Regions from separate parts of the Homo sapiens genome. Here all the other regions are linked to region 2. Evidence: fine-mapped expression QTL. A gene starts in region 2. Each other region holds a variant in brackets. All regions are shown on one strand. Distances are from middle to middle. Region 1 overlaps LOC105373281 (a long non-coding RNA gene). Region 2 holds the start of CAPN2 (calpain 2). Region 3 overlaps LOC105373281 (a long non-coding RNA gene).

Region 1 (10,188 bases), 36 kb after region 2:
AAAATTAGCCAGGCATGGTGATGTGTGCCTGTGGTCCCAGCTACGTGGGAGGCTGAGATGGGAGGATCAGTTGAGCTCAAGAGGTCAAGGCTGCAGTGAGCCACGATCATACCACCGCACTCCAGCCTAGGCAACACTGAGACTGTCTCAAAAACAAAACAAAAAGTATGATGAATTCCTATGTATCCACCACCCCACCCGAGAACTAAAAAATTACTTAAAACTTACGTCTCTCTATATGCTCCTTCCTCACTTCGTTTCCCACTCTTCAGGGTGAAAGAGACCACTATTCTGATCTTCGTGTATATATTTTCTTTTTTTCATGAGTTTTATTTCATATATTTGTATGCATATGTTATATTTTCCACATTCAAAATTTCTCCACTAAACAGGGAAAAGAGAAAGACCCTTTACATGGAGAAGAGCTAATATGCACTCCTTGAAATTAGAGCCTGGCAGCTTCCCGTATATAATTCTTATTAAAAATATTAAAAATTGGCCGAGTGCAGTGGTTCACACCTATAATCCCAGGACTTTGGGAGGCCAAGGCAAGCAGATCACTTTAGCTCAGGAGTTCGAGATCAGCCTGAACAATACGGTGAACCCCCCCAATCTCTACTAAAAATACAAAAATTAGGCAGGCGTGGTGGCGGGTGCCTGTAATCCCAGCTATTGGGAGGCTGAAATGGGAGAATCGCTTGAACCTGGGAGGTGGAGGATGTAGTGAGCCAGGATCGTGCCACTACACTCCAGCCTGGGTGACAGAGTGGGACTCCATCTCAAAAAAAAAAAAAAAAAGAAAGAAAAAAGAAAAAAAAAGTTAAGAATTCCTCTTTCAAAAAAAAAAAAAACTTTCAATAGAATGAATAGTCCAAGAAAACATCATGTTGGTGCTCCAGCATGTTACCAAGCACCCCAGGGGGCATATGTCCCCAGTTAGAGAGCCACTTCTGGCAAGGTGGCTCTGATAGGCTGAGAGAGGTACAGCCCTCTGGCCAAGGAAGTCAGGGGCTAGCTGCTGGGGTTGCAAGCACACCAGAGCTTGTGAGTTTGCAAACATACAGGGCTCCAAGGGGTGTGGGCATTGATGTTATGTGCCACAGCAACCAGTCCCTTAGCTTGGTCAGTGACATGGGACCTGTGTGATCTGGCTTAAGAAGGTACCAGGGCCAATTAGATTTTTCTCTTTTGGCAATTTAGACAGAGAAACACAAAGGGATTATTTGCTAGTAAGTTGTGAGAGCTGTATTAGGCAAGTCATAAGACAGAGTTGGAGCTGGAGAGGCTATGATAGGCCATGGGGAAGTCCAAGTTTTGCCGGAGCAAAAACAATGAGTAATCAGCCGGATGCGGTGGTTCACGCCTGTAATCCCAGCACTTTGGAAGCCAGGTGGGCAGATCACTTGAGGTCAGGAGTTCGAGATCAGCCTGACCAACACTGTGAAACCTTGTCTCTACCAAAAATACAAAAATTAGCTGGACGTGGTGGCAGGCGCCTATAATCCCAGCTACTTGGGAGGCTGAGGCAGGAGAATCACATGAACCCTGGAGGTGGAGGTTGCAGTGAGCTGAGATCATGCCACTGCACTCCAGCCTGGGCGACAGAGTGAGACTTCAATTCCAAACAAACAAACAAAAAATAATGAGTAGTTCAACGAGGCCAGCGGACAGCAGGACTGAATTAGACAGGTGACCAGAGCTGAAGCTTGCTAATGGGCGTGCAGCAGCGTAAGGACCCACCGTTCTGGTGCTGAGCCTGCTGGAGCCATGTGCAGCCGACATTCAGCAGAATTCACCTGCTGATTTTGGGAGGCCTGGCACCATCAAGGCTCTGGTTCTTAGATTTCTTGCTCTCACATATTCATAACTTACTTAATCCAACTTTCCATCTACCCCATGCCTGACCTGTGCCTGTACAGCTCAGTGTGACTGGAATAAAGCACACAATCAAGGTATGGTAGTTAAAAAAATGCCCATAAATTATTTGGTATTCCTTACTTTAAGAGGTGGAGGTAAATTCCTCTTTTGAGAGTGGGCTGGACATAGCAATTTGCTTCTAATGAATAGAATAAACCTGAAGTGAGTAGACAACTTCAGAGACTAGATTGTAAAAAGCAGTTCCCTCTCTGATTTTTGTATCACTTGTTCTGGAGGAAGTCAGCTGCCGTGTCATGATAACATTGAAACAGCCTAAGGAGAGACTTACGTAATGAAGAACCGAGGCCTCCTGCCCATGGCCATGCGAGTGAGCCATCCTGATAGGAGATCCTCCCACCACAGCTGAGCCATCAGTTGACTATAGCTGCAGTCGGTGTCTCATGAAAGTCTTAGAGGTCAGAACCATACAGCTAAATTCCCAAATTCCCTATGCACCGAAATGGTAAGATAATAAATATATGCTGTTCTAGACCACTGAATTTGGGAAAATTTGTCATCTGCAAAAAATAAATAATATATGTGTTGATCTGTCTTACATTAAATTGATAGTCACTAACTCAACTGGCCCTTAATGCCACCTGGCAGCATCATGTCTCTTATCCAATTTTCAATATCACTTATTTTATTTTATTTAAAAATTTTTTTGAGACAGAGTTTCGCTCTTGTTGCCCAGGCTGGAGTTCAATGGTGTGATCTTGGCTCACTGCAACCTCCACCTCTCAGGTTCAAGTGATTCTCCTGCCTCAGCCCTCCAAGTAGCTGGGATTACAGGTATGCACTATCATGCCTGGCTAATTTTGTATTTTTAGTAGAGATGGGGTTTCACCATGTTGGTCAGGCTGGTCTCAAACTCTTGATCTCAGGTGATCCACCTGCCTTGGCCTCCCAAAGTCCTGAGATTACAGGCATGAGCCACCATGCCCGGCCAGATCACTTACTTTATACCTCCTCTCTCTCTCTCAAATCTCCAACACCTCTGCCCCATTCTCACTCTCAGCTAATGCCCTTCACTCCTATTTCCAAGAGAAAGGTCAAAGCACTGAAAACAGAACTTCCCAAGGTCCAACTGTGACATCTATCCTCACACTGTGTCTGCCATCTACCCTGTGACAAGGGATGAACTGTCTGTGTCCTAAGGCCAACCTCTCCCCTTGGGCTCTAGATTTGATTTCCTCTTGGCCACTCAAAAACATCCCTCCTGAAATTCATCCCCCTCTCTATTTCTAGGTGGAAAGAGCATCGACCTGAGTCCAATCAGCTACTTACAGGTCAACTAAGAAGAGGACTGAGAGTTAACCATTGGATTGAGCAACATCAAGACCACCTGGATATTGGCCAATGGTTTTACCCTGACCATCTGCCCAGAGGGATGGTAAGAGAGAAAGGCAGGACAGAAATGAAAGGACAGTGAGAATACACACCACTTTCATGAAATTTTGTTGTGAAAAGAAAGGAAGAGGCCCGGCATGGTGGCTCACATCTGTAATCCCAGCACTTTAGGAGGCCAAGGCGGGCGAATCACCTGAGGTCAGGAGTTCGAGACCAGCCTGGGCAACATGGCAAAACCCCGTCTCTACTAAAAATACAAAAGTTAGCCAGGCATGGTGGCATGGGCCTGTAATCCCAGCTACTCAGGAGGCTGAGGCGGGAGAATCGCTGGAACCCAGGGGGCAGAGGCTGCAGTGAGCCGAGATCGTGCCACTGCACTCCAGCCTGGGTGATAGAGCAAGACTCAAGGTAAAAAAAAAAAAAAAAGAAAGAAAAGAAGAAACAGGACAGGGGCATGGAGTCAAGAGAGATTAAACATTTTCTTTTTTTAAGGCAGGAGAAACTATAGCAAACTTGTATGGGAAAGAAAACGATCCAGTAGAGACAGAGAAAACTGATGCAGGTGCATCTGTGGCTGCTTGGCAGCAGGAACTGAGGTCAGGGAAGCATGTGATATAGTGACATGCCCAGCAAGAACAACCTCAAAGTACACTCGTAAGTCCCCATATTGCATGTGGAGCTCTGTGAAGGGTTGCACGATGAACTTGAGAGAGACACAGTTCCTACCTTCATGGCCTTGTTTTCTAAGACTAGGTCAGAGGACTCTCCACATTTATGCCCTCTCTTTTCTATTGTATTGTATTTTATTGTATTGTATTGTATTGTATTGTATTGTATTGTATTGTATTGTATTGTATTGTATTTATTTATTTATTTGAGACAGGGTCTCACTCTGTCACCTAGGCTGGAATGCAGTGCCTATTTATGGGCATGATCATAGCTCACTACAGTCTTGACCTCCTGGGCTCAAGCAATCCTCCCAACTCAGCTTCCCAAGTAGCTGGGACTACAGGTGTGTACCACCACACCCAGTGAATTTCTTATTTTTTGTAGAGACAGCAGTTTTGCCATGTTGCCATGGCTGGTCTTGAACTCCTGGGCTTGGCCTCCCAAAGTGCTGGGATTATAGGCATGAGCCACTGCACCCAGCCTGTCCCTTTTCTAGCTAGTAGTTTTCTTTCAGAGGAAATCAAAATATCTCCCTATTTACGCTAAATATGAGTCCTGAACTGTTACAGCTTCTGGGGTAGATGAGGTTAGGGTCTCTGTCAAATGCCAGCATTCAGAGGCATATAAGAAGCA[C/A]TCACTGTTTTCCTCTATTCACAACACATTTCGCTTCTGACACCAGATGTGTGGGTTTTTCCCCCACACTGAACAATTTTCCAACACCAGCTGGGTGTCCTACAATTTAACTCAATTCTGACACTAATTGCCTGGAGTTAGAACAAGTTAATGGCTCAGTCCTACAAGACCATCCCCACTTCAGAGCCCAATCATAAGTGGTGGGTCCCCAGGTCACCCACAACTTCTGTCTGACTTGGTTACAAATTGGAGGTTCCCACGACCTCCTCCTCATGTTCACTAATTTGCTAGAATAGTTCACAGAAAGCAAAGAGAAAAGTTACTAAGTTATGGGTTTATCATAAAACGATGCAATTCAGGAACAGCCAGATGGGAGAGATGCACAGGGCAATGACATGTCTTGGCTGTGTCCCTACTCAAATCTCATCTTGAATTGTGACTCCCACAATTCCCACATGTTGTGGGAGGTAACTGAATCATAAGGGTGGGTCTTTCCCATGCTATCCTCTTAATAGTGAATAAGTCTCATGAGATCTGATGGTTTTATAAGGAGGAGTTCCCCTGCACATGTCCTATTCTTGCCTGCCACCATGTAAGATGTTCCTTGCTCTTCTGCCATGATTGTGAGGCCTCCCCAGCCATGTAGAACTATGAGTCCATTAAACCTCTTTCCTTTACAAATTATGCAGTCTCAGATATGCCTTTATTAGCAGCATGAGAACAGACAAATACAGGCAAGGTATGGGGAAAGGGGTGCAGAACTTCCATGCCTTCTCTGGGCACACCACCCTCCCAGCACCTCCATGAGTTCAGCAGCCTGGAAGCTCTCTGAATTCTGTAGCTCAGGGATTTTTTTTTTTTTTTTAGCTGTGACCTTGCCTTTCTCTCTCTTTCTCTCTCTCTCTCTCTCTCTTTCTCTCTCTCTCTCTCTCTCTGTGTGTGTGTGTGTGTGTGTGTGTGTGTGTAGATTTCTTTCTTTATTATTATTTTTTAAACTTTTATTTTAGGTTCAGGGGTATATGTGCAAGTGCTGCGGTTTGGAGTTGTGTCCCCACCCAAATCTCATGTTGAACTGGAATTGCCAGTGTTGGAGGAGGGGCCTGGTGGGAGGTGACTGGATCATAGGAACAGTTTAATGGTTTAGCACCATCCCTCTAGTGCTGTTTTAAAAGTGTGTGGCACCCCTCCTTCCTCTTGCTCCCACTATGTAAGATGTGCTTGCTTCCCCTTTGCCTTCTGCTGTGATTGTAAGTTTCCTGAGGCCTTGACAGAAGCAGAAGCCTATACAGCCTACAGAACTGTGAGACAATGAAACATCCTTTCTTTATACATTACCCAGTTTCAGGTACTTCTTTATAGCAGTGTGAGAATGGACTAATAAAAAAAATTGGTACCAGAGAAGTGGAGCATTGCTATAAAGGTACTTGAAAATGTGGAAATGACTTTGAAACTGGGTAATAGGCAGAGGTTGGAAGAGTTTGGAGGGCTCAGAAGAAGACAGGAAAATGAGGGAAAGTTTGGAGCTTCCTAGAAACTTGTTGAATTGTTGTGGCCAAAATGCTGATAGTGATATGGACAATGAAGTCCAGGCTGAGGAAGTCTCAGATGGAGACCTCTCAGATGGAGCTTATTGGAAACTGGGGTAAGGTTACTCTTCCTATGTGTTAGCAAAGAGACTGGCAGCATTATGCCCCTGCTCTAGACATTTGTGGAACTTGAACTTGAGAGAGATGATTTAGGGTATCTTGAGGGAGAAATTTCTAAGCAGCAAAACATTCAAGATGTGACTTGGCTGCTTGTAAGAACCTACAGTCACATGCATAAGGAAATAAATGATCTAAAACTAGAACTTTTATTTAAAAGGGAAGCAGAGCATAAAAGTTTGGAAAATTTGCAGCCTGGCCATGTGGTAGAGAAAAAAAAAATTTCAGAAGAGGAATTCAAACCAGCTGCAGAAATTTGCGTAAGTAAAGAGGAACTGAATGTTAATAGCTGAGACAATGGGGAAAATGCCTGGAAGGCATTTCAGCAAACTTCATGGCAGCCTCTCCCTTCACAGGCCCAGAGGCCTAGGATAGAAGAATGGTTTTGTGGTCTGGACCCAGAGCCCCACTGCCCTGCACAACCTCGGGACAGTGCTCCCTGTGTCCTGGCGGCTCAAGCTCCAGATATGCCTCAGGCAGCTGCTCCAGAGGGTGCAAGCTGCAAGTATTGGTGGCCTCCACATGGCATTAAGCCTGTGGGTGTGCAGAGGACAAGAGTTAAGGCTTGGGAGTCTCTGCCTAGATTTCAGAAGATGTATGGAAATGGCCGAATGTCTAGGCAGAAGTCTGCTGCAGGAGTGGAGCCCTCATGGAGAACCTCTACTAGGGTAGTGCAGAAGGGAAATGTGGGGTTGAAACCCCCATGCAGAGTTTCCAGTGGGGCACTGCCTAGTGGGGCTGTGAGACGAAGACCACCATCCTCCAGACCCCAGAATGGTAGATCCACCAACAGCTTGCACTGTGCACCTGGAAAAGCCACAGGCACTCAACACCCTTGAGAACAGCCATGGGAGCTGAGCCCTGCAGAGCCACAGGGACAGAACTGCCCAAGGCCTTGGGAGCCCAGCCCTTTCACCAGTGTGGTCTGGATGTGAGACACAGAGTCAAAGGAGATTATTTCAGAGCTTTAAGATTTAATGACTGCCCTGCTGGGTTTTGGACCTGCATAGGGCCTATAGCTCCTTTGCTTTGGCCAATTTTTCCCTTCTGGAAAGGGAGTAATTATCCAATGCCTATACCCCTATTGTATTTTGGAAGTAACTAACTTGTTTTTGATTTTACAGGCTCATGGGTGGAAGGGACTTGTCTTGTCTCAGATGAGACTTTGGACTGGACTTTCGAGTTAATGCTGAAATGAGTTAAAACTTGGGGGACTGTTGAGATGGGATAATTGTATTTTGCAATGTGAGAAGGACACAAAGTTTGGGATAGGCCAGGGACAGAATATGGTTTGGATTTGTGTCTTCGTCCAAATCTCATGTCAATTTGTAATCCCCAGTGTTGGAGAAGGGGCCTGGTGGGAGGTGATCAGATCATGGGGGTGGTTTAATGGTTTAGCACCATCCCCCTAGTGCTATCTTAAAAGTGTGTAGCACCTCCCCTACACTTCCTCCTGCTCCCACCATGTAAGATGTGCTTGCTTCACCTTTGTCTTCCACCACGACTGTAAGTTTTCTGAGGCCTCCTCAGAAGCAGAAGCCTGTATAGCCTGCAGAACCATAAGCCAATTAAACAACTTTTCTTTATAAATTACTCAGTTTTAGGTATTTCTTTATAGCAGTGTGAGAATGGACTAATACAGCAAGTTTGTTATATAGCTAAGCTCCTGTCATAGGGATTTGTTGTACAGATTATTTCATCACCCAAGTACTAAGCCTAGTACCAAATAGTTATTCTTTTTTTGTTCCTCTCCCTCCTCCCACCCTCTACCTGCAAGTAGGCTCCAGTGTCTGTTGTTCCCTTCTTTGTGTTCATGAGTTCTCATCACTTAGCTCCCACTTACAAGTGAGAACATGTGGTATTTGGTATTCTTGCATTAGTTTGCTAAGGACAATAGCCTCTAGCTCCATCCACATTTCAGTAAAAGACATAGTCTTGTTCTTTTTTTGACTGCATAGTATTTCAGGGTGTATATGCACCACGTTTTCTTTATCCAATTTGTAATTGATGGGCATTTTGATTGATTCCATGTCTTTGCTATTGTGAATAGTGCTGCAAGAAACATTTGCTTGCATGTATCTTTATGGCAGAATGATTTATATTCCTTTGGGTATATACCCAGTAATGGGATTGCCAGATATAATGATAGCTCTGTTGTTAGGTCTTTGTAGCTCAGGAATTTTTATGGAGGCTTTATCTCATAGGCATGATGGATTATCAACCTAGTCACCAGCTCCTCTCCCCTGCCTGGAAGATGGGGAGTGGGGCTGAAAGTTCCAAGCCCTCCCTTCCTCCCTCCCTCCCTCCCTCCCTCCCTCCCTCCCTCCCTCCCTCCTTTCTTTCTTTCTTTCTTTCTTTCTTTCTTTCTTTCTTTCTTTCTTTCTTTCTTTCTTTCTTTCTTTCTTGTTTCTGAGACAGGGTCTCTCTCTGTTGCCTAGGCTGGAGTACAGTGGCATGAACATGGCCCGCTACAGCCTCAATCTCCTGGGCCCAAGCAATCCTCTTGCCTTGGTTTCCTGAGTAGCTGGGACTACAGGTGTGTACCACTATGTCCAGCTAGTTTATTATTTTTTATTTTTAGTACAGATATCATCTCACTGTGTTGTCCAGGCTGGCGCTGAACTCCTGGGCTGAAACGATCCTTTTACGTTGGCCTCTCAAAGTTCTGGGATTACAGTTGTGAAGCAACTTGCCTGGCTTTTTCCAAGCTTCTAATCATGGCTTGGTCTTTCTTGTGACTAGCCCCCATTCAGGAGCCCACAAGAGTCACCTTATTAGAACAAAAGACTCTTCTATTCCCAGGAAATTCCAGGGATTTAGGAGCTCTGTCAGGAACTAGAGTCAAAGACCAAATATTACAACAAAAGATGCTCCTAGCACATTTATCACCCAGGAAATTACAAAGATTTTAGAAGCTTTGTGCCAGGAACTGAGGACAAAGACCAAAATACTTATTTCTTATTAAATCACAAGATCACAAGAGGTATCCTGGCTGTGTCTTCCCTTCCTCCACACTCATCCCCAGCCTCTGGGACTCACAGAGGAGGTAAACTTGGGAACTCCTCTCCCTACCTGCCCAGCCCCAGTGCCACTACCTGAATTAAGCCATCATCGATTCTTGCTTGTTTCAGAGCAACTGCACCCTAACTATAGAGAAGAAGTCCACATCCATTTAGGATGGCATTCAAGGCCCCCAGTGTCTTTTCCTCTTGTTGTTTGCCTCCTGCCTCACTCCAGGAGTGAGTGATCTAGAATGATCTCATTCTAGATAATTAATATTCTGTTGGCACTGTGTGCAGAGCTGTTCCTTCTTGCCATTTTCTTGCTGTTCCCCTTGACTCCAATGCCCTTTTTACACTGCCTTCTTTCAAAATCATCATCCTTCAAGCACCTTATCCTACAGATCTAACTGGAAGGCCACCTCTTCCATGAAGCCCTCCTTATCACTCATCATCCTCAGAATCAACCACTCTTTCTTTGAGCATTGCCTGGTCTTTCCACTGCATGGAAGTTCTTTGTGGGCAGGCATGGTGTCTATTTGTCTTTCGATTTTTTCTTTTCTTTTCTTTTTTCTTTTTCTTGAGACAAGGTCTTGCTCTGTCACCTAGGCCAGAGTGCAGTGGCGCGATCTCAGCTCTCTGAAACCTCCACCTCCTGGGTTCAAGCAATTCTTCTGCCTCAGTCTCTTGAGTAGCTGGTATTACAGGTGCCTGCCACCATGCCTGGCTAATTTTTTGAAATTTTTATAGAGATGGGGTTTCACCACGTTGCTCAGGCTGGTCTGGAACTGCTGGGCTCAAGTCATCTGCCTGCCTTGTCCTCCCAAAGTGCTGGGATTGCAGGCCTGAACAAATGCGTCTGGCCTCTATTTGTCCTTTTATCCTCCTACGAGCATTGACCCCTGCCCAGTGGAGTG
Region 2 (10,499 bases):
CTCTCTCCTCTGTTACTGCATGCAAGTTGTTTTGCTTGCATGAAATTCCTTCCTTTCCCACTCTCTTCCCTCCTTTTCCATATTGCATCATACCTTGAGGCTCATTGTCACCTCCTCCGTGAAGTCGTCCTAGTCCAATCCTCACTCATCCCTTCAAGTCTGAGTCCCAGAGTCTCTGGACTCTGCAATTTACTACTTAGGTATTACTCTGATTTCCTAACACATACCCTTTTGAGGGCAGGCGGGATCTAACCCTTTTGAATTCTTCCATGGGACCATGAAACTTACAGCATCTATATATTCTGTACCTGCTTACATCAGAGACTGTGCTCAAAGCTTTACCTCATGGAATGGGTATTATCCCCCTTTTACAGACGAGGAAACAGCTCAAAAAGGTGAAGTGACGTGTCCAAAGTTAACACAGTTCACAGATAATAGACAGCACTGGCATTGGAACTTACTGATCAAATGCGCCAACTCTTTCTGCTCCTGCCCTGCCTCTAATTGATTTAGTACCAAGCGTTCAAGGGTGTTAAAACCTCAGGGGCCATTGTCATGAGCAGCCTGATGGAAGCCAACCTTGAACACTTCTTAGCCCTTTCAGCAGCCCTCTGAGTGTGTTTCGATTCTGAAGAGCCCCACCCAAAAGCCACAGAGGAAGTTGGGGCACAAATTTGAGCCTCTCTGGGCTCAGGCAACCTTGCCTTGAAGGAGCTGCGTCTCATGTCTGCTTGGGTTGCACACGCCTGCCTCCACCCAACGGCCCTCGGCATGCCCACTCTGTCAAGCAGAAGTATGCCTATATGAGACTTGGATCTAGCCCCTGTTCATTCTAGCTCAGATTGTGGGAGCTCTTCCGGAAGCACCATCTGCCGCAGAGGACATTCCCTTCATGCCTCTGCCTTGTTTCTCTCTGCTCCTGTCAGTTTTGGGGATGGCAGAGAGAATCAGAATGCTCTTCTGCTGAGGCAAAGGAAGCCAGCTTGGCCCAAGGCCTGCCAGAGAGCTCTTATCCAGCTGATGGAATAGATTGGGCTTGGTGCTGGGAGCCTGTTTATTATAAAGAATCACACTGATAATCCTGAGTGTGCCAGGCACTTACTCCAGCAGGGTTTTTCCATTATACTTCAGAAACTTTCTAATGCCTTTAGCAGCCTCTCTAGAAAAGTCAGAGTTCAGAGTGGTGCTAAACACCTAAGCATCTAAGCGATGCTTCAGAAAACTGAAACTTGTGCACGGCATGTAGGGCATCGAATTAAATATGGGTCTTACCAGTCAGTGAAAAGGGGCTGAGGGTTTGGGCTTTGCTGCATTATTCTGATAACCTAGGTTTGAATCCTGGCTCTGCCACTTATTATGTAGGTCGTAGGACCCTGGGAAGTCACTTAACCTTTTGAAGTCTCAGTTTTTTCACCTGCAAAATGGGAACGATGAAAACACCCACCACAGAGGATTGTTCTGAGTGTTAAATGAGATAATGATGTAAACATGCCCTGGCAAGCACTCCATAAATGTGATCTATTATTATTACTGTTGAAGAAGTTGATGATAACAGTCACTGAACTTGGAGACAGGACATATGGGTTTGAGGCTGAGTTCGGCCAGCTGAAGATAAGCAAGTGAGAAACCTCTCAGAGGTTTGATTTTCTTGGGGGAAACATAGGGGCTCACAACATCTGCCCTTGCTCCTAACAGACTGGTTGCTGGAAGGATCTGATGTGCCACCCGGATCACACCTGCTTTCTCCTCACTGTACCCCTGCATGGCCCTTGGACCCCACTGGACTTACTGCTTTAATCCCCGCTCCAGGCACTGGAGCCACTCTTGCCAGTGTTGTGAAATCCTCTCTCCGAGGAAGAGCAGCTCCTCCTGCTGCAAGGCTAACCTGCTCCCCTCCCCTGCCCACAACCCGTATTCTCACTTCCTCAGGGATCCTGTTTCACTGCCCCCTCCCTGCCTTTATCTTTAATCCCTTCTTCCTGGTGATTCAACATATGACACATTCAAGTTGTTCTCATATGAAAAAAACACAGGCTCTCAAAGTCCAGGTCCTACTCTACCTATCAGTTCTCCTCTCTTCCCGGGGGTCCTTCTTAAATAAGTTGATCATGTTCTTAATTTCCAGTTCCTTTACTCTGGAGTCTACAACAATCTGGCTTCTACTCTCACCTTTCCATTGAAATTGCTCTGCTAAACTCACCAATGACTTGCTAGTGTTCAAATCCAGCGGAAACAACTGTGCTCCCCTTGCCTGACCTCAGCAGCATTTGAGAAGGTAGGAAGGAGGCAGAGAGCGCAGCCATAAGGGGTAGGCTCAACATGCACAGACTACACACAGTCCTGGATCTATGCCCTATATCCACTTGACTCTGAGCAAGTATTTAACCTTCCCAAGCCTCAATTTCTTCAACTGGCAAATGGGGATCGTAAAAGTCACACTCTTCCTTAGTTGTGCAGTGCACAGCCCGCCTGCCCTAAGCAGTGGCGCTAGATCATCTCTAGACCTCTACATCCTCATCTGGAAGTCCCACAGGCATTTCCAACTGTTGGGGGACCTGTCTCTGTCCCCTCACTAGCCTCAGAAGTAAGTCTTCAGAAGCAGAAACCATATGCATTGTGCCCAGCATATAGTAGGTATTCGAGAAATGCTTACTGAATGAATGAAAGAATAAGTGAATGAGTATGTGAACTCACTATGTAAACTGTAAAGTGCCATGCAAATGTAAAGTGAACACATTCTCTTGGTTTGTGTTTCACTTTTTTTTTTTTTTTTTTTACTTTTTTATAGAGACAAGTCTTACTGTGTTGCCCAGGCTGGTCTTGAACTCCTGGCTCAAGCGATCCTCCCACCTTGGCCTCCCATAGTGCTGGGATTACAGGTGTGAGGCACTGAGTCAGGTCAGCGTATCACTTTCACAACCATAATTTCATTTGAGGCACATTACAATCCTGCATCCATATTCTACAAACAGTCACTTCTTTTGTGTTCACTGGTGTATCTCCTGAGCTCTCAGGACAGTGCCTGGCATGTAACAGGTGCTCAATCAGTGTTGTCAAATGAGTGAGTAAATGAATGAATGAATGAATGAATGAATACTGTGAAAGGCATGGTTATGTGTCAGGCACTGGGGATATACTGGTAAATAATATACACATGATTCCTGCAGTTCAGTAGGAAGAACAAATACATGTGATTATATTCTAAACTGTGACAATGCTATGAAGGAAATGAGTGGGGTGACAGAGAAAAACAAGGTGGGGAGGTGGCTGCTAAGAAGGGTCAGAAAAGACCTCTTTAGGAAGGGAACATGTGACTAAGTTGGGAAGAATGAGAGTGAGCCACACTCCAGGTAACAGCGTGCCTTGCTGGTGAGAAGGCCTCATGCAGGAAAGAACCGGCTCTTTGAGAGACTGAAAGGAGGCCATGACGGCAGGGCCTAGTGGGCCACAAAAGAGAGAAAATATTTAGGCAGCATGTTTTCTTTTAGATGAAGACATGGAGGCACAGAGAGGTTAAATGGCTCGTTCAAGGTCACCAGCAGGTTAGCAAGAAGAAGAACCCAAGTGCTCTGAGTCTGGGCTAGGGCGCTTCCTGCAGCCCTTGCTACCTATGGGCTGGATTTAGGGTAACAGAAGGTGACCTGGGAGGCTGCTGGGTGTGGAAGCAGAGCTGGAAGCCTTGTTCTCACAACAGGAATCTAGAAGTTGGACTTCAGGGCAGGCTTTCCTAGGCGTGGTAGGGGAAGCCTGGGGAAGTGTCCCAAAGGAGGAGGAGCCTCAGGGGTTCCCCAAGAAACAGAATGGACAAGTAGATTGGGGAGCACAAGTTGTCCCAGGGCCGGGAGGTCAGAGACCCTGGGGGACGGGATAAGGGGGTCTGGAGGGCTCCCGGAGGTTTCCCGGGTGATTCCCGCCAGGGAAACCATGAGACACCTCCGTGTCCTGGGTTAATTACCAGTGTCAATGTTATGAGGAGGTATCGCTGGCTCCCCTTTGGAAAAATAAATCTAACCCCAGGGCTGCAGGAGACTATCCTTAGTCACAAAATGACCAGGCTATGGCCTGTCCCCCTCCATGAACAGACAGAACCCCAGTTGGAGACGGACTTTGTCTGGTAGATGCTGCCTCTCACCGTCCCTTCCCTGCAGACCCGATTCCCCTTCCCTTCCAGCTCCCCGCTAGAGTCCAATCAAAGTTTCACCCCGGCCTCCTGCATCACCCTGAGTTTTTGTGAAGTCCTAAAGTGGCCTGCTAGTGGGATCTGAGGGCAGTGATTCGCCTCGACCCGCCCAGGAAAGCGTGGTGGGTGGAAGAGAGGGAAGGCCCCGGGAGTCCCCCCACGCTCGAACAGAGTCCCGGGCTCTGGCGGCGCGGAGGTGTCGCAGGACTGCGAGGTCCTGGCTTGCGGCTTCCCCACTGCAGCACCCGGGCTGCCCCCCGCCCCAGCGCGCCGCGGGCCGGCCTGCACCCCGCCCTGCCCGGCACCCCGCCCTGCCCGCGTCCTGCCGCGCGCTTCCTACCGTGGGGCGCTTCCACTCGATGCCCCGGGTTTTGCTGGAGTAGGGCCCCAACTCCTTGAAGCCCAGGGCCGAGGGGATGGCCGGGAAGGACGGGTCCTGGAAGAGCGTCCCGGCCTCCAGGCACTCGTTCCGCAGCGCCTCGTAGTCCTGGTTGAGGTACTTGATGGCCCTGTCGTGGGAGCCCAGCCCCTCGGCCGCCTCCCGGTCCTTCGCCAGCTTGGCCGCGATGCCCGCCATGCTGCGGTCCCGGCGGCCGTACTGCGCAGAGAAAGGTCGGGGCGACTCCGCGCTGCGCTCGGCTGGGGCGCGGCCAGGGCCCGGCGCGCTGCTGCGGCCACTGCGGGCGCCGCCGCTGCGAGCGATGATTCACCGGAGGGAAGCGGCCCGGCCCGCGGGGTGTGGCCTCAGCCGCTCCCGGCCTGCTGGGCTCCCGGCCCGGGACCAGGCCATCCTGCGGCCTGCCGAGCGCCGGGAACGCCGCGACCCGGGGCCGGTGCTGCCATCTGCGGACAGCTCCCGGGATGGCGCGGCCCGGCGCCGGGGAGGCTCGCGAATCGCGGTCCAGAGTTGGGGCTCCCACCGGAACCCGAGGCCACCTTTGCAGCCCATAGGGAAGAAGGCTAGGATAGTTGTGGCCGTCCGGAAAACACCCGGGGAGTTAGCAGAGGGTCAGGTAGTGAAGTCGAGGAAACTAAACCAGCTGCCCTGAACTTTGTGCCAAACAGCGTCTTAACGGCTCTGCATACATCATCTCATTTAATCCTCCCAGCGACTCTGAAGAAGGCGCTGATATTGTCCCCATTTTACAGATGAGAAAACTGAGCCTCGGAGACGCTAAATGACGTCCCCAATGTGGCACAACAGTCACAGGCAGAACAGGGACTCTAAGCCACCGGAGGCCTATTGCAATCACAATGCTGCAATTACTACTGCTCAGCTGTTTATTTGATTATAGATAGGGTTGTCAGATTTGGCCAATAAGGCTGGGTGCGGTAGTTCACACCTGTAATCCCAACACTTTGGGAGGCCGGAGGCAGGCGGATCACCTGGGGTCAGGAGTTCGAGACCAGCCTGGTCAACATGGTGAAATTCCGTCTCTACTAAAAATACGTCGTGGCAGGCACCTGTGATCTCAGTTACTCGGGAGGCTGAGACAGGAGAAACGCTTGAACCCAGGAGGGAGAAGTTGCAGTGAGACGAGATCGCGCCACTGCGCTCCAGCCTGGGTGACAAAGCGAAACTCCATATCAAAAATAAAATAAAATAAAATGATTTGGCCAATAAAACAACAACCCTCCCAAATGTTTAATTTGAATTTCAGATAAACAACAGATACTTTTAAAGTATATGTAGGGCCCAAATATTGCATGGGCATACATACTTATTCTAAAAGAAAATATGATTCATTGTTTACCTGAAACTCATATTTAACTGGCAGGATTAGTTGGGTTACTATAGGGAGAGAGCATTTAGAATACTGCCTGTGTTGGCTACTGTGACCACTCTGTTGTGGAGCTAGGGTGTGATTCTCATCTCACACACAGAGACATGGGTGCGTGCCAAGAAATGCAGATGGGCAGAAATTACCTCCTCTTCTTCTCTACAGTAGTAGGGAAGAATTTGGGTTTCACTGGAAAACTGTGCATGGTCTACAGCAGTGGTTCTCAACTGGGGGCAGTTTTGTCCCCTACCCACCCCAGGAGACATTTGGGAATGTCTGGAGATAGTTTTTATGGTCACAGCTAGGAGATGAGGTGCTACTGGCCTTTACTAAGTAGAAGCCAGGGATGCCGCTGAACATCTTCCAATGTCCAAGATAGCTCTTGTGAACCCAGAAAATCTGAAACAGGTCTCATTTAATTTAGAAAGTTTCTTTTGCCATGGTTGAAGATGCACACCTGTGACACAGGAAGTCCTGAGGACATGTGCCCGAGGTGGTTGGGGTGCAGCTTGGTTTTATACATGTTAGGGAGGCAAGAGCCATCAGTCAAGTACATTTAAGAAATACATTGGTTTGGTTCAGAAAGGCGGGACAACTCAAAGTGGCGGGGGGTGGTGGGTGGGTAGTGGGGGTGGCTTCCAGGATATAGGTAAATATTTAAACATTTTCTGGTTGACAATTGGTTGAGTTTGTCTAAAGGCCCAGGATCAATAGAAAGGAATGTTTGGGTTGCGATAAGAGGTTGTGGAGACAAAAGTTTTATCACATAGATGAAGCTTTTAGCTAGCAGGCTTCAGAGTGAACAGGCAGTAAAATGTTTCTTATCAGACCTAAACTCTGGTTGATGTTCACGCTGGAGAGGTATAATGAAGCATGTCCGACCTTGCCTTTCCTTCATGGCCTGAAAATTTCAGGTTAAAATTTTAAGAGCCTCGGCTAAGGAGGAACCATCCATTTAGATGGTTGGCGGGGGTAGGGGAGGGGGAGGCTTAGAATTTTATTTTTGGTTTACATTCTCCACCCAAAACATGATCTAGTCCAAGACATCAGTCATGTAGAGGCTGAGAAACCCTGGTTTAGAGCATCTCCTTCCAGAAGATCTGGGTCTAGCCTTTCATTGTTTTTGTTGTTGTTGTTGTTGTTTTTGTTTTTCTTGAGATGTAGCACCCTGTCACCCAGGCTGGAGTGCAGTGACAGGATCTTGACGATCTCAGCTAACTGCATCTTCTGCCTCCCGGGTTCCAGCGATTCTCCTGCCTCAGCCTCCAACGTAGCTGGGATTACAGGTGCACACCACCACATCTGGCTAATTTTCTATATTTTTTGTAGAGATGGGGTTTCACCGTGTTGGCCAGGCTGGTCTCGAATTCCTGACCTCAGGTGATCCGCCTGCCTCAGCTTCCCAAAGTGTTGGGATTACAGGTGTGAGCCACCACACGAGCCCCTTTCATTGTTTTTGAGTTATTTTATAACTCTAAGTTGTATATAACTGTAGCAATGTATAGTTACCTAAGTAACTCTAAGTAAGTAATCTAAGTTGTAGATAACTGTAGCAATGGAAAATAATTTTTCCTATAGATATGCAAATGCATTCTGTCCAGTAGAGGCACTACAGTCCCCCTGTAGAGAGACCAGTTTTTTGTCTAGTTGCATATTCCATTTCAGTACTCTTCACGTCATGTAAATTGTGCTGCTTTGGTTTCTCCTTTGAACCAGTTATAACATCCACCAGATTGCCTCGTTTAATCAAGTTAAATGGACTCTTTTTTTTTTTTGAGATGGAGTTTCACTCTTGTTGGCCCAGGCTGGAGTGCAATGGCACAATTTCGGCTCACCACAACCTCCACCTCCCAGGTTCAAGTGATTCTCCTATCTCAGCCTCCCGAGTAGTTGGGATTACAGGTGCCTGCCACCATGCCTGGCTAATTTTGTATTTTTAGTAGGGACAGGGTTTCTCCACGTTGGCTAGGCTGGTCTCGAACTCCTGACCTCAGGTGATCTGCCCACCTCTGCCTCCCAAAGTGCTGGGATTACAGGTGTGAGCCACTGCACCCTGCCGAAATGGAATCTTTAAAATGTGTTTATTTTATACTAATATGAGAGCCATGATGTTACCTTTTCTTAAAGCAAGTATTTTTGTCACTATTATTCCTCTGCCCCCATCTATTCTTGTCTCTGACACCCATTGCTTACCCCCTTTGCTTGACAAAACTTTGGTCAGACTTCTCTCTTTCCTACAGATCCCTGAATGCTGCTTGCCCCCAAGCCTGAACAAGCACAAACAAAGTGGAGTGTCCCTGCCAAGTCACTTCCCTGCCCAGCTTCTCCTGGGAATTGACTGAACACAGCAAGACCCTTTTCCTGTCAGCTCCCACTGGTCATTTCCCCTCACTTGTCCAGCTTCCCCTCCCAAGAGTCTGCTTATCTCCACTTGCTCCTCCTTTACCCTAGAAAAGAAGAATCTTTTTCTGTTTGATTTTGAGCTGCTTGCAGATTCTCTGAATTGGAATTGTCTTTCTCTCTTTTTTTTTCTTTTCTCTTCTCTTTTCTTTCTTTTCCTTCCTTCCTTCTCTTTTTCTCTATTTTTTCTTTCTTTCTCCCTCCCTTCTTCCCTTCCTCTCCTTCTCTCCTTCTCTCTTTCTCTCTCTCTCTCTCTTTCGCTCTTTCTTTCTTGTTTCACTCTTGTTGCCCAGGCTGGAGTGCAGTGGTGCAATCTCCACTCACTGCAACCTTCGCCTCCCGGGTGCAAGTGATTCTCCTGCCTCAGCCTCCTGAGTAGCTGGGATTACAGGTACCAGCCGCCATGTGCAGCTAATTTTTTTGTATTTTTAGTAGAGACGGGGTTTCCTCATGTTGGCCAGGCTGGTCTTGAACTCCTGACCTCAGGTGATCCACCTGCTTTGGCCTCCCAAAGTGCTAGGATTACAGGTGTGAGCCACTGCGCCTGGCCTGCAATAGTCTTTCTTTCTATTGAAGTGTCCCTTTATAAAAGTCTGGATTTTTTTTTTTTTTTAAACAGAGTTTCACTCTTGTTGCCCGGGCTGGAGTGCAATGGCGCGATCTTGGCTCATTGCAACCTCCGCCTCCCGGTTCAAGTGATTCTCCTGCCTCAGTCTCCCATGGTTTTGTTTTTATTTGACATCCTCCATCTCTGGTTTGCAAGTCTGGGCATGCTGCCTGATGGGCAGGTACCACCGTCCACCACCAGGCTTTGCTTTCTTTACTCTTGAATAAGGCGGGGACACAGGTTCCATTGTGTAATGGTTGGCACTCTGGACTCTGAGTCCAGAGATGGGGATACAGGCATTCATTTCTAGCTCATGGGTTTCTGGTGCAAGGGTTTCATGAAGCCATCACAATTGAAAACAGAGGAAAGCGACAGCCCTGTCCTGGAAGCTGTTCATTTGTTCCACTGTCTGATTTCCATTGGCCCCACCCCGACTTCTTCTGGGCTCGAGGCTCTTGGGAGAAAGCTTGTCCTTCTGCCCAGTGGGGCAGAGCGCAGGCTTCTCCTCCCACTGATCTCCTCAAGGACAGCTCATCTCTGGAGGAAGTGACTCCTCCCAGGCAGGTGGAGGTCATTTCCCTCCTAAGTCATTTTAGCAACAAATGGGCAGATCAGACCTATCATTCCAGTCAACTCAGAAGCTTTGCACAGCCTGGGAGCAGAAGAGCCTCCTGGCTCACCTGAAGTTCCTCTTCCCCAGCTAGGCAACACCCTCTTTGGTGCAGCCCTGGCCACTCCCCTTGCCAGCCTTCTAGGGATCGCTGCGCACATAGAGCTCTGCTTACAAAGGGCTTTAGGCTGTCCTATGCCACCCAAATTTAATTGCAAACACATACAATGACTACTTTCCCCAACCATTTGGACAAAGTCTAGTTTTTAAACCTGAGTTAATGTTGCTTTTTCTACTTCCCAAAGCCTCTCACACTATGCTATCTCACTGACCCAGCAAAGTCTTCTCTTTCTCTGACCACACAATCCTTTTCACGGGAACACAAGGACATAGACAAACACTTCATGGTGGAAAACCTTCCTGGAGTGAGTCAGCCAGCCCTGAGGATGGTGGTGAGTCAGAAACAGCTGGGATTATCCAGAACTGCCTGGGTCTGGGCCACTGACCTTGTGAGTAAATGAGAGAGGGAGTGAGAGAGAGAGATAGAAAGAGAGAGAGAGAGAAGAAGAGAGAGAGAGAGAGAAAATAAGAGAATAAGAATGTGTGTGTCTCAGAGGGCCATGGCAATGGAATCTTTTTCAGTAGTATTTTTCTTTAGATTATTTTCTCCCTGGCCCTGGATGTTTGAGATGCATCAGAGGCACAATCTGCAGGTTCTGGATTTTTTTTTTTTTTTTTTTGAGGTGGAGTCTCACTCTGTCACCCAGGCTGGAGTGCAGTGGCGTGATCTCGGCTCACTGCAACCTCCGCCTCCCGGGTTCAAGCAATTCTCCTGCCTCAGCCTCTTGAGTAGCTGGGATTACAGGGGCTCACTGCCATGCCCAGCTAATTTTTGTATTTTTAATAGAGACGGGGTTTCGC
Region 3 (10,499 bases), 22 kb after region 2:
GATGGAGGTTGACACCAATCTTTTGGGGGGTCTTTTGGAGGATTTTTAAAAAAATAAACTTCAGCTTTATCAAAAATTATGGAAAAATTGCAAGACTAGTCCAAACCCCTCCTGCATATTTTTTACCCAGATTCACCAATTATTTACCTTTTGCTTCATTTTTGCTTTATTATTCTACCATCCATCCATCCATCCATCTACATACACACCATTATATGCATATACATAGCATTATATCCCCATTACATATGCATATATGTGCTGTGTGCCTGTGTGTGTATATTTTTTCTGAACCACTTGAGAATCAGTTGCAGACATTGTGCCCATTTACTCCTAAGTACTTCAGGGTGTATGAAAGTCAGAATATTTAACACTGGCATATTGCTATTATTTAATCTAATTGATATTCAAATATCATCAATTGTCCCAATAATATCTTTTATAACCTTCATAATTTTTTTCTCAGGTAAATGATCCAATACAGGATCATGAAATGCCTTTAGTCATTATGCCTCTTTAGTATTCTTTAATCTAGGGCAGTTCCTCAGCCTTATTTTGTCATTTGTGACCTTGACATTTTTGAAGAACACACTCTAGTTAGTTTGTAGAATGCCTCTCAATTTGGATTTGTCTGATGTTTCTTTATGAATAGATTGAAGTTATGCATTTTTGGCAATAATATCATAAAAGTGATATGTCTTTCTCAGGACATTACATCAGGAGGCACATGATATCGATTTGCCCCATTTCTGATGATGATAATTTCGAGAATTTAGTGAAGGTGGTGGCTGTCATTTTCTTCATTGTAAAATTACTATTTTTAAAATACCTTTGAAATTAATCAATTATTTTTTGGGAACTACTTTGAGACCATATACATATTCTGTTCCTCAACAAACTTTTACCTACTAGTTTTACATTCATTGCCTGAACCAACCACTACTATGATTATTATAAAATAGTGTTTTTAAAAATTATAATATTTCCTCTTCCTTTATTGGCTGGTATACGACTGCTAGGAAGAGTTTTCCATTATCTCCCAGTTATTTACATAAATAAGGGCAGATAGGTTCCTATATTACTCAATGGATTAAATGCATTACTATTATTATTTATTTTGATGCTCAAATTGCCCCAGATTTTGCCAGGGAGAGTCCCTTCAGGACAGCTCCTGTGCCCTTCTGCCGTGTCCTCATCATTCTTCGAGCACCCCCTTACTTCCTGGAACATGAAGCTATTCCAGATTCCACTTATAATTTTTCTGCCCTAGTTCTGGAATTAAACATTTCTTTTTTTGTGGGGGGAAATTAAGCATTTCTTCAAGGAGCCTTTTTTTTTTCTTCTTTTTCTTTTTAGTGAGGAATAGTATTTAGAAACCAAGATCTGGGTGCTTAGTGCTACTGGAATTGCTTCTATTGCCTCAAGGCAGACAGATCTCTGTTCTCTGTATTAGAGGACACTCTGTCCACTCTCTAGCTAACAGGCCCAGCCAAGAATTTTCTTATTCTTTTTTTTTTTTTTGGCAGAGTCTCCAGGCTGGAGTGCAGTGGCAAGATCTCGGCTCACCGCAACCTCTGCCTCCCAGGTTCCAGCGATTCTCCTGCCTCAGCCTCCCAAGTAGCTGGGATTTCAGGTGCCTGCCACCATGCCCGGGTAATTCTTGTATTTTTAGTAGAGATGGGGTTTCATCATGTTGGCCAGGTCAGGTCTCGAACTCCTGACCTCAGGTGATCTGCTCACCTAGGCCTCCCAAAGTGCTGAGATTACAGGTGTGAGCCACCATGCCAGGATGAATTTTCTTATTCTTTAGGAGAATGTACCTTGATTTGATTTGTTATTCACTATTGAATGGGGCCAAGACCATAACGTTACATACTAGCATGTAGATTTTTGTCTAGTATAGCTACTAATAATTTCATTCAGGGAAAAAAAATAAAACAACAAAAGCTAAAATAAAAAATAAAAACCAAACAAATAAACAAAAACCCTAAATCCCAAAGGTTATAGTCTTCTTGCCCTGTATAACATTAACCAGTTTTGTATACCACCCCAAAATTCTATTTTAACATCTTTTATTCAGTGCCTATAATACTTAATCTCTCAAGTTCTCTTGAAACCAACTTTACCATCCCACTCATTCTCTCATTAATTAGGTAAACGAGTTTTTAAAAAACCAGGTACATAAATCTAAACATAATGCTCTCTTTATAAATGTAAATAAATAAAATACAATTTTAACTCATAAAAAATTATACCCACGCTGGTGCAGAGCCTCTCCTTTAATCCCAGCACTTTGGGAGGCCAAGGTGGGTGGACCACCTGAGGTCAGGAGTTTGAGACCAGCCTGACCAGCATGGTGAAACCTTGTCTCTACTAAAAATACAAAAATTAGCCAGGCGTGGTGGCAGGTGCCTATAATCCCATCTACTTGGGAGGCTGAGGCAGGAGAATTGCTTGAACCCCGGAGGTGGAGGTTGCAGTGAGCCGAGATCGTGCCATTGCACTCTCTAGCCTGGGCAGCAAGAGCGAAACTGTCTCAAAAAAAAAAAAAAAAAAATTATACCCAGCTGGGTGTGGTGGCTCACACTTGTAATCCTAGCACTTTGGGAGGTCCAGGTGGGTGAATCATTTGAGGCCAGGAGTTCGAGACCAGCCTGGCCAACATGGTGAAACCCCATCTCTATTAAAAATACAAAAAATTAGTTGGGCATGGTGGCACATGCCTGTAGTCCCAGCTACTCAGGAGGCTGAGGCAGGAGAATTGCATGAACCCGGGAGGTGGAGGTTGCAGTGACCTGAGGTTGCACCACTGCACTCCAGCCTGGGTGACAGAGACTATCTAAAAAAAAAAAAAAATTATACCCTGCCACTTGAATTTAAATTGGCCTCCAATTCCAAATGACCACAATGTGATTTATTTTAACCTTCCCTCTTTCCATATTTGTAATTCTCTTCTCCAACAGTGAGAGATATTGCTTTCATCCTTCTGAATATATTTATTTATTTATTTAATTCAAGAATACACAGAAAGTAGTTTTAGAATCACAAACCCATACTACCATGAAAATTACAACTACCAACTAGGTTAGGGTTCAATGTTTGTTTATAGTTCGTTTTGTCCTTACTGAGAAGATATAGTCAAAATGCTATAGACAAAGTCTCTTGAATTACTTAGTTTCCCCCCTATTCAATAGATTCTTTTTGAATCTGGCTGGGCACGTGGTGGCTCACGCCTATAATCCTAGTACTTTGGGAGCCAAGGAAGGATTGCCTGAGGCCAGGAGTTTAAGACCAACCTGACCAACATAGCTAGATCCTATCTCTCCAAAAAAAAAAAAAAAAAAAAAAAAAAAAAAAAGAGAGAGCGATTCTTTCTGAATCTAAAATCTGTTTAGAACAGGAGTGGCTTGGTTTACTCCACTACCCTTTGTTAGAGTGTTTCTAACTGTGGCGGTTCCTTTCACATGAAAATAGGGCCCTCACTTTTTGTATAGGTGGCCATAGACATATAATAGAAATAACAAACAGACAAGTAGCAGAATATACAAAACAGTTGCGTTTTGATCACTTCCCAGGAGTTGTGCATTCAATTTACCAGTGACTTCGTGTTTCTACTAGCCTTTTGCTGATATCCTAACTACACATTAGTTCTTTCCACCCCACGTGGAAAATGACAGTATTGGCGTACTTTAATTAACTCCAGATAATTTTCTCTATTTAGAACTCTGAGAAGTTGATCTCTCTCCAGAGGACCCCAGATAATAAAAAGCATTCTAATTCTCTAGAGTTGGGCCATTCAAAGCCAGTTTTAAACAAGAGGTTGAATGATGTCCCCACATGTTCAATTTTATATATGGTGTTAGCATACTTCTGGTGATAAGGGAGTTTTGTTAATGACTCATATAAATGACAGCTTAATTTTTAGTTTTTAATAGTTGTGCTG[T/G]GTGCTTTGCTCTCATTTTTAATAGTTCGCTGTGTGATTTGTGTCCTGTTAGGAACAGGATTCTAACAAAGCCTAACTCTTGGTGAAATCTGGAGTTTATCATCAGGTCCCTGGCCCTGTTGTATCACCCTTTCCCACCTTGATGGTAGTCTCCCTGTTTTCCTTGTATGCAGTGCCCTGAGGAGATCTTTTTCACACATTTAAAAGTCTTCTTTCATCAAAGTATCTGAAAGTCAGTCACATGAAGTTGCAAATAACAGATAATAGCTTAAAGTGTCACTCTTCTCTCCTAGACTCCTACAGGACAACCAGGGACAATCATCTTCACAGGAACCTATCCTCCCTGCTGGGTATGTAATTTGCATAATTTATAGCGCTGGGTGCAAAATGAAAATGTGCTTATCTTGTTAAAAATGCAGGAAAAAAACTGTAATTAAAATACTAAAATATAAAGCCTGTGCGGTGGCTCACGCCTGTAATCCCAGCACTTTGGGAGGCTAAGGTGGGCGGATCACTTGAGGTCAGGAGTTCAAGACCAGCCTGGCCAACATGGTGAAACCCTGTCTCTACTAAAAAGACAAAAATTAGCCGGGCACGGTGGTGGGGCGCCTGTATTCTCAGCTACTTGGGAGGCAAGAATCGCTTGAACCTGGGAGGTGGGGATTGAAGTGAGCCAAGATCGTGCCACTGCACTCCATCCTGGGCAACAGAGTGAGACTCTGTCTCAAAACAAACAAACGAACAAACCCCTAAAATATAAAGCTTTTTTTTAAAAAAACAATTTTTATAAAATGTAATAGGGATAATAGTGATATATGAGTAATGACTAAACCTACAAATTGCAAAAATGTACCATTTTTTGTTTCACCAATTTATATAATACAATGGATAATAATACTTTATTAATGTGAAATCTTGATTGGTCATAAGATTTTTCTGACTCACTTCTCTGCAAATCATTTCTAAAGCCATCAAAATTTATATATATATATATTTTTTTTTTAAAAAGGGGCTATGCTAATCTTCTCTGTATCATTCCAATTTTAGTATATGTGCTGCTGAAGTGAGCACCAAAATTTATATTTTCAAGATGATGACAGCAGAGTAAGAAATAAAAATAAAATCCTAAGCCTCCCAACCGACTGAATGGAGTGCCTCTCAGCCAAGTGGACCCCAGAGGAACCTTAAAAACTGAGTTCCCAGCCATAAGGGGATGGGAGGTCAGATACACCTCAATATGCCCTATCCTTATTCATCTTTAACCAGAAATTTTTCCTAAGGAGTACACGGAAATCAGCCCTGGGGAACAAGATACAGATGACTCTACTTCATTGCCTTTAGCCAGTCATCTGAGGCCATGACTGGACTCCCCCTTCCTTTTTGTGGTTTTTTTTTTTTTTTTTTTTTTTTTGAGACGGAGTCTCGCTCTGTTGTCCAGGCTGGAGTGCAGTGGCGTGATCTTGGCTCACTGCAAGCTCCATCTCCTGGGTTCACGCCATTCTCCTACCTCAGCCTCCTGAGTAGCTGGGACTACAGGCGCCCGCCACCAAGCCCGGCTAATTTTTTTTGTATTTTTAGTAGAGACGGGGTTTCACCGTGTTAGCCAGGATGGTTTTGAAGATCTCCTGACCTCGTGATTCACCTGCCTCAGCCTCCCAAAGTGCTGGGATTACAGGTGTGAGCCACCGTGCCTGGCCTTTTTGTGGTTTTAACACAGCAACTAACCAGCATTCCTTCCTGGTAAGAGATCACTGACCACAGAGTGGTTCTCAGCAGTTTGCAGAAGATGCACGTTGATGGTTTTTGTGTTCTCTGTTTCACCTTTTGATGTCAGAGGGCCAAAAACTCCACCCTTGGATCATGCAAGCATCATCATTTTTTGAACATGTGACGCATAAAGAGGCATGAAGCCCAATTGCACATGCACATGTTTCTCTTTTCATAAATATTCATGACTCCTCCTATTGTGTACTAAATATGTATACTTAGCCAAGCCATTCATTATACATTCCTGTTTTATCCATCCCTGCCTCGAAGTACCTGCTTCTGACTTCTGTCACAGGCTACACTTCCCAGCCTGTAGGAATGGCCACCTTGCAGATTGCAACACTTCATGAGAAATAAACCTCTTATTTCAAAATTTATGAACCTCACCACTCGTTAGTTGACAAGAGTATTAACCTAAGCATGGGGCCCCTCTTGGAGCAGGGCCCTTATGACTGCATAGGTTGCTGCCCATGAAGCTAGCTAGCCCTGCTGACCTTGTTGCTGGTTTTCCAGGAGTAGATGCCGAGACTGTGCTTGGTGTACAGAGTATTTATTAGGAATCAACATCCGTGGATGAGAGGAGGAGGAAGCAGTCTTGGGCAGAGGGAAAAGTCAAAATGTGATGCAATTGTGACAAAGCTTTGGCCATTCCTATGGGATGTTCTGGACCATACACGGCCCATCAGAGATGCTAGATTAAGCCAAAATGTCTGTGTCTTTATACCTTACTTCTATCAGTCATTGGATGTGAACTGCCCCAACTTTGGGAGGTGGGATTAGCAGAAAGTTTCCAGGTCTCAAATCCTTTAGAGTTTGTTTCAGTTGCAGAGAGCTAACTCAACCAAGGGCATGACCCTCCCAGGCTGAGCAACATCCTGCTTTCTCTTCTGAAGAAAACAGTAGCAAACCAAATCCAGCTCTCTATATATGATAATATATCACAGCCAATAGCTGAGGTCAAGAATAGTAGATTGACCTCGTGTGGTGACTCACGCCTGTAATTCCAGCACTTTGAGGTGAAGGTGGGAGGATCGCTTGAGGCCAGGAGTTTGAGACCAGCTGGGCAACATAGTGAGACTCTGTCTATACAAAAAATTAAAAAAAAATTAACCTGGTATGGTAATGTGTGCCTGTAATCCCAGCTACTTGGGAGGCTGAGGTGGGAGGATCACTTGAGCCTGGGACGTTCAGGCTGCAGTGAGACATCATCGTGCCACTGCACTCCAGCCTGGGTGACAGAGCAAGACCCTGTCTCAAAAAGAAAAAAAAAAAAAAAAGGAAATTGCTTAAACATTAGGGAATCAGAGAATCAGTCACTGATGGATTGATATATATTAACAGAATGATGCATAAAGATACAGATATAGAAAGGTTGAAAATAAAATGATGGAAAAAGATATACTATGTGAACAGTATGAGAAGGAAGCTGGCATAACTATATTAAAATCAGACATAATACTTTAAGGCAAAAATCATTATTAGAGTTAGAATGAGGTTGTTTGTGATGATAGAGGCTCAAATCAAGAGGAATGTTAAAAAGGAAGAGGGATAACTCAAGGGAAGGTCAGCGAAGATTGTGGAGGAAATTGTGTGTTTCCAGGAAGCTCCAGGCTCCTCACATTTTCCCCACCAGCCAGCAGATAGATATTCCATAGTTTAATTTCTTTAGCTTAGTGCTTTATTGTATAGTTAAAATTAAAAAAAAGAAAGCAAGAAAGGAAGGAGCCATCAAGTTATGAAAGGACATTGAAGAAACTTAAATACATATTACTAAGTGAAATAAGTTGTATTAGTCCATTTTCATGCTGCTGAAAAAGACATGTCTGAGAGTGGGTAATTTATAAAGAAAAAGAGGTTTAATTGACTCACAGTTTCACATGGCTGGGGAGGCCTCACAATCATTGCAGAAGGTGAAGGCACATCTTATATGGCAGCAGACAAGAGAGACCTTGTGCGGGGAAACTCCCATTTTTAAAACCATTAGATCTTGTGAGACTGATTCACTATCATGAGAACAGCACTGCAAAGACCCGCAAAAGTCATTATTAGAGATAGAATGGGGTTGTTTGTGATGATAGATGCTCAAATCATTTTTCCCCATGATTCAATTACCTCCCACCGGGTCCCTCCCACAACATGTGGGAATTGTGGGAGCTACAATTCAAGATGAGATTTGGGTGGGGACACAGCCAAACCATATCACTAGTCCGTCTGAAAAGGCTACATAACATATAATTCCAAATATATGACATTCTGGAAAAGGCAGAGCAATGGAGACAGTAAAAAAAAAAGATTTCTGGGTGTTTGGTGAGGGGTAGATGAACAGGCAAAGCACAGAGGATTTTTAGGGCAGTGAAAATACTCTGTCTGATACTATAATGGTGGATACATATTATCATATATTTGTCAAAACCCATAAAATATACCATACTAAGAGGGAACCCTAAAGTAAACTACAGTGATAATGACATGTCAACATAGGTTCATCGATTTTAACAAATGTACCTCACTAGTGTGAGACATTAATAATTGGGAAGCTGTGTGTGTGTGAACATCTTACTTTCTTCTCAATTTTTTGTAAAGCTAAAACTGCTCTGAAAAATAAAACTATTAATTAAAAAAATTAATAGGAGTCTGTGTACAGAGATTCTTTTTGTACAAGGAAAAAAACCAACTCAAATTAAGCCAAAAACAAAAGTAAATGCATGATAGGTCTTGGTCCTGCTGCTTGATGACTTAAATCTAAGGTTATGGCAAAACATCTGAAGCTCATTGCCAGGCTGTGATGGTGCAGGACCCTAAACAGAATGCTCACAATGGAGGGGCTCATGACATTAAGCCACAGAGGCACTATGAGAAGCTTGCCACAGGTGACAGCGACAGAGCTGTGAAACTTGCCTGTGGATCTATAATTTGGAAGTGGCCCACAAGATGAACTCCATGGGAAAGAGTTGGGCAGATAGATACATGGCAGGGCTGCTGAGTCCTGTGTGCAGGACACCCAACACGAAAACCTCATCCATTTTGTGCTGTCGCCTCTTTTCTTCCTCCAAAAACCCATATGATGTATATTTCTCTTACCTTTTTTCCCTGCAGTAAACCTAATCCTATAGATGCAAGAAGGCCTGCATATACAGAAGCAATCCCTGCAGTCAGCAATGGAGCCTCTCTTCTCTTAAGTGACAGAGAAACTGAGTCACAAAGTAGTCTAGGAGTAGAATGATGGTTGCTAGAGGATACAAGGAGTGGGAAATGTGGAGTTGGTGCTCAATGGAGATAAAGCTGCAGTCTTGGAAGATGAAAAGATGAAACCTGCGGTTTTGGAGATGGATGGTGTGATGGTTGCATAACAATGCGAATGTACTTAGTGCCACTGCACTGTACACTTAAATGCTAAACCTAGTACATTTTATGTTATATATATTTTATCACGGTAAAAAAAAGTCCAAAGTAAATGCATGCTAAAGATTCTGGAATGTCATTGTAAAACCAAGGTAGAATACGCATGCCTCAGGAATAACCTAAACAGAGACTCAGATAACATTGGGATCCCCTTTTCAAGGTGGGAGGAAAAGTGCCCAAACTTTATTTTTCACAGCTTCAACCATCAGATTCAAGTCCAAAAATCTAGGGAAAAAACTCATTGACCCATGTTGGGTCAGGTACAGTCTCCCATATCAATCAACTATGCACAAAATGTGCCCATGCCACCAGGACTGTGGGGTGTGTGGTGGCCAATTTTGGTAAATACTCCATGTGCATTTGAAAAGAACACGGACTTTGCTGCTGTTTGGTGCAGTATTCTACATATGCTAAGGAGGCTAAGTTTGTTAATTGTGTTATTCAAATCTTCTATATCCTTATTGGTATTTTTGTCTGCTTGTTCTATCCGTTACTAAGAGTATTGTATTAATATCTCATATTAAGATTGCATATTTTCCTTTTTGTCTTGCCAATTTTTATTGTACATATTTCGTGGCTATGTTGTTATAAGTATACAGTTTTACTACATCTTCCCAGTGAATTGATCTTTCATGATTATGAAATGTTTCTCTTTATCGCTAATAATGCTTCTTGCCTCAGGGTGTTCTTTTTCTGATATTATATAGCTATATCATCTTTCTTTTGGTGTTTGCATGCATTTCTTTCTGTACTTTTATTTTTAACTTTTCTATATCTTTATAGTTAAGCTATGTCCCTTTGTTGCTTTTAACTAGGCTGAGAATTTTTTTAATGCAATCATTTAGATTTAATGGAATTACTAATATGTTTGCATCTAAACCTACTTTCTTCTTTTTGCTTTTTGTTTGTCCCATCAAGTCTATGTTTTCCTTCCTCTCCTTTTTTTTTTTCCTTTCTTTTGGATTAACTATTTTTTATTATTTCATTTCACCATTAGACTGGTTTTTACTATCCTTTTGGTGGTTATCCAAAATGTCAATAATGCAGAGGCTAAGAAACCCTGACTAACCTCTTATTTTCTCTAAACTGGCAGTAAAATCTAGAGGTTTGATTGGATTCAGTTTATTTTTTGGGGGGTGGACAGAGGTCTTCACAGATGAACCTATATTGTACACCGTATTATATGAGAAGGCAATAATGTCCCATGCATAGATGCACAGATTGATAAGTGGGCTTAGGTGTTTCAGTCAGATCCATCTATTATAAAGTTCTCCATTCGCCTTTCATCTAATTGTGTTAGCATCCATTGGTGATGGCTACCTAGACTCATTATGTCATTAAGGGTTGCCAGACGGTGACTCCTCTATCACTTGTTCTCCTATTTGCT

What was found. PIP is the estimated chance that this variant, and not a neighbour inherited with it, causes the effect.
Region 1: its variant is the best candidate, but not a certain one, in a credible set for the expression of CAPN2 in whole blood (INTERVAL, PIP 0.65).
Region 3: its variant is the best candidate, but not a certain one, in a credible set for the expression of CAPN2 in whole blood (TOPMed, PIP 0.50).

What each region holds. Positions count from the first base shown.
Region 1 is chr1:223,671,060-223,681,247 of GRCh38, reverse strand. LOC105373281 (a long non-coding RNA gene) reads left to right here. Exons shown (of 3, transcript XR_949164.2): 3 at 3,166-3,430. Among named protein-coding and RNA genes, the nearest start is that of CAPN8, 10 kb to the right of the region's middle. The variant C/A (reference allele first, on the strand shown) is at 4,570.
Region 2 is chr1:223,706,899-223,717,397 of GRCh38, reverse strand. CAPN2 (calpain 2) reads right to left here and starts at 4,859. Exons shown (of 21, transcript NM_001748.5): 1 at 4,521-4,859. The coding sequence starts at 4,757. It overlaps LOC105373281 (a long non-coding RNA gene), which reads left to right and starts at 9,748. Exons shown (of 3, transcript XR_949164.2): 1 at 9,748-10,030. RefSeq lists silencers at 4,393-4,512, 4,723-5,112 and enhancers at 4,222-5,173, 5,213-5,262, 9,040-9,539, 9,540-10,499.
Region 3 is chr1:223,684,566-223,695,064 of GRCh38, reverse strand. It overlaps LOC105373281 (a long non-coding RNA gene), which reads left to right. Exons shown (of 3, transcript XR_949164.2): 2 at 4,237-4,293. It also overlaps the pseudogene RNU6-1248P. Among named protein-coding and RNA genes, the nearest start is that of CAPN2, 23 kb to the left of the region's middle. The variant T/G (reference allele first, on the strand shown) is at 3,944.